2 linked regions of the Homo sapiens genome follow. The protein of the gene in region 1 purifies or fractionates together with the protein of each later gene. This does not show direct contact. Each region holds a gene or a part of one and is shown on either strand. Other genes may lie near its edges.

Region 1 (3,652 bases):
CCAGCACTTTGGGAGGCCAAGGCAGGTGGATGACAAGGTCAGGAGTTCAAGACCAGGCCAAGATAGTGAAACCTTGTCTCAAAAAAAAAAAAAAAAAAAAATTAGCCAGGCATGGTGGTGGGCACCTGTAATCCCAGCTTCTCGGAAGGCTGAGGCAGAGAATTGTTTGAACCCGGGAGGTGGAGGTTGCAGTGAGCCGAGATTGTGCCACTGCACTCCAACCTGGTTGACAGAGCGAGACTCTGTCTCCAAAAAAAAAAAAAGAAAGAAAAAGAATGAGATCATGTCCTTTGCAGGGAAATGGATTCAGCTAGAAGCCATCATCCTCAGCAAACTAACACAGGAACGGAAAACCAAACACCACATGTTCTCACTCATAAGTGGGAGTTGAACACTGAAAACACATGGACACAGGGAGGGGAACAACACACACCGGGGCCTGTTGCAGGGTGGGGAGCAAGGGGAGGGAGAGCATTAGGAGAAATACCTAATGCATATGGGGCTTAAAACCTAGATGACAGGTTGATGGGTGCAGCAAACTACCATGGCACATGTATACCTATGTAACAAACCTGCACATTCTGCACATGTATTTAAAATAAAAAATAACAGAAAACAAAATTAGAGCAAGACCCTTTCTATACTTAATATATAAAAATTCTCAAGGCAGTTAATTGTAGTTGCTAGTACAGAAAACACTTAACCTTAAGTGAAAATAAAAGTATACTTTACTATGGAACTTTGTTAGTTTAATTCAGGAAGTGAAAAGATGCATTTTCAGAAGTATCCCTTGCTATACAAACTCTTCATAATCCCTCCCCAAAACTCAGAAACCAAATAGTTTCAGGTAGCAAGAGATACTTGTTTTCTAAACTTTCTATCTTATTTTCTAGTCTTATCGGGACCTCAAAGAAGTAACTCCTGAAGGGCTCCAAATGGTAAAGAAAAACTTTGAGTGGGTTGCAGAGAGAGTAGAGGTAAACCTTCTATAGTAAAACTGTATGTATTATGTGTTTTTCTTCTAAGAAAATCTTGTTTCAAAAGAAAAAAAAATGGGAGAGTATAGTGCTTTTCTTTTCAGTGACTTTGTTTTTTGTTGTTGTTTTTTTTGAGACGGAGTCTTGCTCTGTCGCCCAGGCTGGAGTGCAGTGGCGCCATCTCAGCTCACTGCAAGCTCCGCCTCCCGGGTTCACGCCATTCTCCTAGCTCAGCCTCCCGAGTAGCTGGGACTACAGGCGCTGGCCACCACGCCCAGCTAATTTTTTGTATTTTTAGTAGAGACGGGGTTTCACCGTGTTAGCCAGGATGGTCTTGATCTCCTGACCTCGTGATCCCCCTGCCTCGGCCTCCCAAAGTGCCGGGATTACAGGCGTGAGCCACCACGCCCAGCTCTTCAGTGACTTTGAAAGTGAGGAACACTTTTAGGAAATGTATCAGCTGGGCTATCCTTACTAGGATACTGGAACTCCGTGCTGTTAAGCTGGCCAATACATACCTCCCAGATCCTGTTGGGGAAACCTGGAATCTGTCTCCTCCCTACCCCGTAGGAGAAACCTTATATTTCCTACTCACCTGCACTGCTAGTCAGAGTTCCATTAGCATGGGATGGATGGAACTCTGTGTGACTTTAAATATTCCTTTAAGTTTTATGGTATTACTATAATTCTGGGAGTTGAATGGGGTTTGTGATTATGCAAGGGTCATAATCACATTTGAGAACATTATTCTTATAGGAATATATATTTTGAGTTACAAGCAATTAACTTACAAAGACTTAGAACATGACTTCTGATTTGGCTAATCATACCTTAAAGCTTCCATTAAACAAAGTGCACTAAAGGTCTTAGGATGAAATATTTTGTATTATAATTTCCTGAAAATTAAAAGATTTTGAGTATCTTTACTGTTTATTTTAAATAATTTGTCTGATAAAAATTGAATTCTTTAGGTCTTGATGAAGACCACTTTCCTTTATATATTGAGATTTTTAAAAATAAATCCTGTCTTTTTGTTGTTTGTCTCTGTCTTAAATTTGATCTGTTAAGAAAGAAAATATTGGGCCCAGATATAATTTTACTACAAACTCTAGCTCATTTATTCATTTTTGTTTTTATGTTCTTTTCATATCCACGTATTTTTTCTTCAGTTGCTTTTGAAATCAGAAAGTCAGTGCAGGGTTGTAGTGTTGATGGGCTCTACTTCTGATCTTGGTCACTGTGAAAAAATCAAGAAGGCCTGTGGAAATTTTGGCATTCCATGTGAACTTCGAGTAACATCTGCGCATAAAGGACCAGATGAAACTCTGAGGATTAAAGCTGAGTATGAAGGTAAACCACAAGTAATATGGACATTTCAGGTATTTCTGATTTTGCTAAAAGTAATTACACACTTTAGACTAATAATGCTGAAAAAAGAGCTTTGTCAGTTTTCTAAGGGAAAAACACATGATATACTAGGCTTTCTTTTTTTTTGAGATGGAGTCTCACTCTGTCGCCCAGGCTGGAGTACAGTGGCGCCATCTCAGCTCACTGCAAGCTCCACCTCCCGGGTTCACACCATTCTCCTGCCTCAGCCTCCCAAGTAGCTGGGACTACAGGCGCCCACCACCATGCCCGGCTAATTTTTTGTATTTTTAATAGAGACGGGGTTTCACTGTGTTAGCCAGGATGGTCTTGACCTGATCTCATGATCCGCCTGCCTTGGCCTCCCAAAGTGCTGGGATTACAGGCATGAGCCACCACGCCTGGCCGCTAGGCTTTCTTAATACTCACCTCCAAAGAGCTTAAGGTATTCTAGAAGCTTAGAAAAGAAAGGAGCAGGGAGAAATAATTAAAAATGCAAGTATGAAAAGAAAACAAAGACTAGAATGATGAGAACCTCTGGCATCCTTACCTGGTAAGAAGCCCCTGGAGCATTGCTTCTAATATACTCCAATAGAAAATAGGCCCCCACAGTTACAGGAGGCGGGAGGTTAAAATAGCCGGTTCTCCCGGGAATCTTTAGTTGCCACCCTTTCCTGGGAGGCAGTCAGATAGGAAATTAAAGAACAGTTTCAGAATATAGTACATAAAAAATAATGGTATAGCAGTGATCTAAAATAATGGAGCCCTGGGTTTACAACCAAATGTTTCTCAACTGGAAAAAAATGTTGATTATTTCGTGTACAGGTTGTTGCTATGGAAGTGTAGTTACTAATTTTGGGGGAGTGGGAGGTTGGGGGAACTCAGACTCCTTTGATAGCTAATGAATTCTAGAACTCTTTTCAGAAAATTGCAAATACATACAATTTTGGATTCTAGGTTAACAAATCTCTGCTTTAGGAAACAGGAGGATAATTTATAAATTTATCAAAGAATGAATTGCTTAAGAGATTATGTTAAAAAATGTATCAAAGGGCCTTAAAATTTGGGGGACACTATATTAATTAAACTTTCCTTCAACTCTTGTTTGAAGACGTGTCCCTAAACCCCTAGTTTATATTAACTGGTTCTCCCTGCACCAGTTGAGGGACCACCCAGTCAAGAAAGACACCTGTTCAGATGGTGTCATTCTTCACTTTGGCCAGCCTATACAGCAATAGAAGAGGCCTATGAGCTATTCCCTCACTGACACCCTGCTATCCCCTTTATAATGTAGATCTCAAAAACAACCA
Region 2 (3,652 bases), on another chromosome or scaffold:
ATCTCACCCAATCCTTACAGTCGCCCTGTGGGGAGCAGGCTGTTTGCACCCCTATTTTGCAGCTGAGCAGTTATGCTAGAGAGCTGAAGCCACTCAAACCCATGTCTGGTGGACTTGACCTCTGTCCTGTGCCTGGAGTGAGCGCTCACTGGATTGCAGCTGTGGTTCCTTCTCTCCCTGTCACTTCCTCCCCCGACATCAAACCCTCAGTTTCATTTAGTTTTTGCCTCGGGCTGCAAATGCAGCTTAGGGACCTGCGGAGGCTGAGGGAGGGGGGTGCCCCACCCGCTGCTGGGAGGGCAGGAGCAACGCTGCTGTCTGATTGCATCATTTTCCCAAGCCCATCTGCCCAGCTCATTTCTCTGCATGCATACACTGGCCCCAACACCCACACACGTGTGCATGCACACAGGCACACATGTGCAAGCCCAAACACATCACACACATGCATGCACACACATTGTGTACTCTCAGGTACGCACCCCTGGGTGCACACAGGTGTGTGCGCGCGCACACACACACACACACACACACTGTCTCAGGTACACACGCCAGGTCCATGCATTGCTTCACACTGCCCAGCCCCAGAGGCTGAAGGCCTCAGAGCCCACACCTGCCCAGCTACAACCTGGCAGGCAGGAGGGGCTCACTGGTTTCTTTTGGTTTATTTAAGACAGAGTTTCACTCTGTCACCCAGGCTGGAGTGTGGTGGCACGATCTTGGCTCACTGCAACCTTTACCTCCCAGGTTCAAGCGATTCTCGTGCCTCAGCCTCCCAAGTAGCTGGGACTACAGGTGTGTGCCGCCACACTCAGCTAATTTTTGTATTTTTAGTAGAGACGGGGTTTTGCCACGTTGGCCAGGCTGGTCTGGAACTCCTGACCTCAAGTGATCCACCCACCTCGGCCGTCCAAAGTGCTGGGATTACAGGCATGAACCACTGTGCTCGGCCATGAGAGCATGTGTAGGACTCCACAGCTTCAGGGCACCCCAGCCCTCTTTTTGCGGTGAGGAGCTGACCTCCAGAGAGTGGAACTAGTAGCATTGTTCTAAGTGCCTGCCACAGGCATCTGGGAGATGGTCCCTGTTTCCATGGAGCTCATAGTGGGGGAGAGGGCAGTTAGAATACAGCATGATGGCCGGATGTAGTGGCCCATGCCTGGAATCCCAGCACTTTGAGAGGCTGAGGCAGGCAGATCGCTTAAGTCCAGGAGTTCGAGTCCAGCCTGGGCAATGTAGTGAAACCCCATCTCTACAAAAAATACAAAAATTAGGCAGGTGTGGTGGCATGTGCCTGTAGTCCCAGCTACTTGGGGGTGGTGGCACTGAGCTGGGATGGGAGGATCCCTTGAGCCCAAGAGGTGGAGGCTGTGGTGAGCTGAGATTGCATCACTGCACTCCAGCCTAGGTGACAGAATGAGACCCTGTCTGAAAAAAAAAAAAAAAAAAAAAGGATACAGCTCTGATGGGCAGGAGGCATGGCGGGTCACTGAGGCGATGCAGGTGATCCAGCTGTTTCTGTGGAGCTGCCCCTCCGTGTTTCTGTGGAGCTGCCTCTCTTGGCTCCAGGTGCCTCTGGGAGGAGGCAGGAGCAGGGGTGACTCTCAGAGCTGGGTGAATCTTGGGCCAGCATCATCAGATCACACTTGCCCAGGACTTCCCTTCCTTGAGTCTCCAGTGGTGGTCTTGTACCTATGAGCAGGGGGTTAAGGAGCCGAGCTGATCTGAGTTGGAGTCCTGGCTCTGCTGCCTACCAGTCAAACGAGATGCAGGGCAAGTTCCTCAGCCCAAGCCTCAGTTTTCCTGACTCTAAAATGAAGAGAACCCCAGATGGAAGGGCTTAGCCTAAGACGGACATGTCTATTCCCTTGATTGTGGTGTTGATGTCACGGGCGCATCCGCACGCCGAAACTTGCTAAATTGGACACAAAAAAATATGCGATTATTTTTGTAGTTGATGAATGTGCTGATTGGGTATTCTCGTGTGTGTGTGAGGTGCCACCCTCAAACTTTGTTATGATGTTGGCACATTACCCATCTGATATTTAAAAAATGCAATTTATGATATGTCAAGTAGACCTCAATAGAGCTGTTTTAAAACATACAACAGAATTTCCCGCAACCCAACCACACCACCCGCGCCATCACACGCAAACAGGGGTAGGCTTCCACATATTTCCTGAATGCCTTCTGGAGCAGGGGGCAGGAGGCAGGAGGCAGGACAGGTGGCTCTGGGGCTCCTGGACCTCCTCTGCTCAGTGAGGCTGCTCACAGGAGATTGGGCGGCTGGAAAGTAAGGTTTAGGGCCTCTGGGATGGCCCAGGCTACCTGCAGGCAGCTGAGTAGCTCTGCTTTTGCAGAGTGGTTCACTGCACTGTGAAAACAGATTCCAGACGCCGGGAACTCACGCCTCCAATCCCAGGTACTGCCCACCTTAAGTCCTCCCTGCCTGCCTTCCTCCCTCCTTCCCTCCATCCTGCATGGCCAATTGCCTGGCTGCAGTTGCCATGGATACCACCTGCTGGCTCCAGGGTTAGGGCTGGCTGAGTCACCAGCAACTCAGGGGCAGGGGGTTGAATGCCCAGTAGGGACGTTGTGGGCACCGACCAGAACCATCTTCTCTGCCCCAGCTGCATGGTCCATGAGGTGTTTCCCCTTCTAAGTCCAAAGGGCAGCACAGGCCTGTGAGCCCCGGCTGACTGGCAGGTGGGACCGTGCAGCATGCACGGGACTGAATTCTCATGTGACGGAGCTCCAAAGTCCACCTGGCTACACGGCCAGGCTCTGCAGCAGAGGACGGGAGGCCTGGGAAAGGCACTTCCTCTCCCCGAGCTTCCAGGCACACAGAGAGTGCTCAGGATAGCGATGCCTGCATCACTGCAATGGTGATGGCCGGGTGACCCTTCTGGGCTCCACTTCCCCAGTAGTGTCTAATAAAGACCCTGGGTGACTCTGACCTTGTGACGTTGGTCAGACTCCAGTGGAAACGTTCCCAGGCAGAACAAACATGCCCTGTACATTTGGGAAATGCGGGATGCTGGGGCCAGGTGTCCACGGAGGCTGGAACCAGGAGGCCTGGGCCCACATCTGCCCCTGCTGCTTGTTGATCCGATGACCCTGGGCAGGTGACCTCGTCTCCCTAACCCTGGTTTCCTGTTCAGCAAATTGGACACAGTGAAGACGCCCAAGCCCAGGGCCACAGGAGGCATGTGGGGGAGGGGGGTGCAGGGCGAGCCCAAGGGCAGCCCAGGATTCAGGGAGAGCCCTCGGGGAAGAAGCATGGCTGCAAAGATCAGGAGACAGGAGGCCTTGGCGCCTTCGGGAGGCTTCATTGTGACGGAGGGTGGGGCAGGATGGGAGACCGCAGGCACTTCCCGGCTGCAGAGGGCCTGGCTGCAGAGAGCCCTCGTGCCCATCTGTCCCCCCGGGAAGGGCCGCTGGTTGCAGAGGTCTTAGGCCTCTGCCTGTCTATCGCCTTCCCTCCCTGGGCCTCAGTTTCTCTACCTCCACACTGGGGGAAGTTGGTCTCTGAGCCCCTCCAAACTGGGCATTGGCAGAGTTGAATTCAGAGGCGCTCACATTTGGAGACACGATGTCTAAAATTCCAGCCAGTGAAGGTTCCATGGGGTTGCAGGTAGGAGAGGGACTGGGG

What was found.
Region 2: the proteins of PAICS (region 1) and ASS1 fractionate together in Homo sapiens (co-fractionation; one large-scale study listed by BioGRID). This does not show direct contact.

The regions. Positions count from the first base shown.
Region 1 is NC_000004.12:56,449,726-56,453,377, forward strand, and holds part of PAICS (bifunctional phosphoribosylaminoimidazole carboxylase/phosphoribosylaminoimidazole succinocarboxamide synthetase), read left to right. Parts: intron 1-893; coding exon 894-977; intron 978-2,146; coding exon 2,147-2,327; intron 2,328-3,652. UniProt on the Homo sapiens protein: Bifunctional phosphoribosylaminoimidazole carboxylase and phosphoribosylaminoimidazole succinocarboxamide synthetase catalyzing two reactions of the de novo purine biosynthetic pathway.
Region 2 is NC_000009.12:130,447,912-130,451,563, forward strand, and holds part of ASS1 (argininosuccinate synthase), read left to right. Parts: intron 1-1,944; exon of another isoform or gene 1,945-2,044; intron 2,045-2,360; exon of another isoform or gene 2,361-2,422; intron 2,423-3,652. UniProt on the Homo sapiens protein: One of the enzymes of the urea cycle, the metabolic pathway transforming neurotoxic amonia produced by protein catabolism into inocuous urea in the liver of ureotelic animals.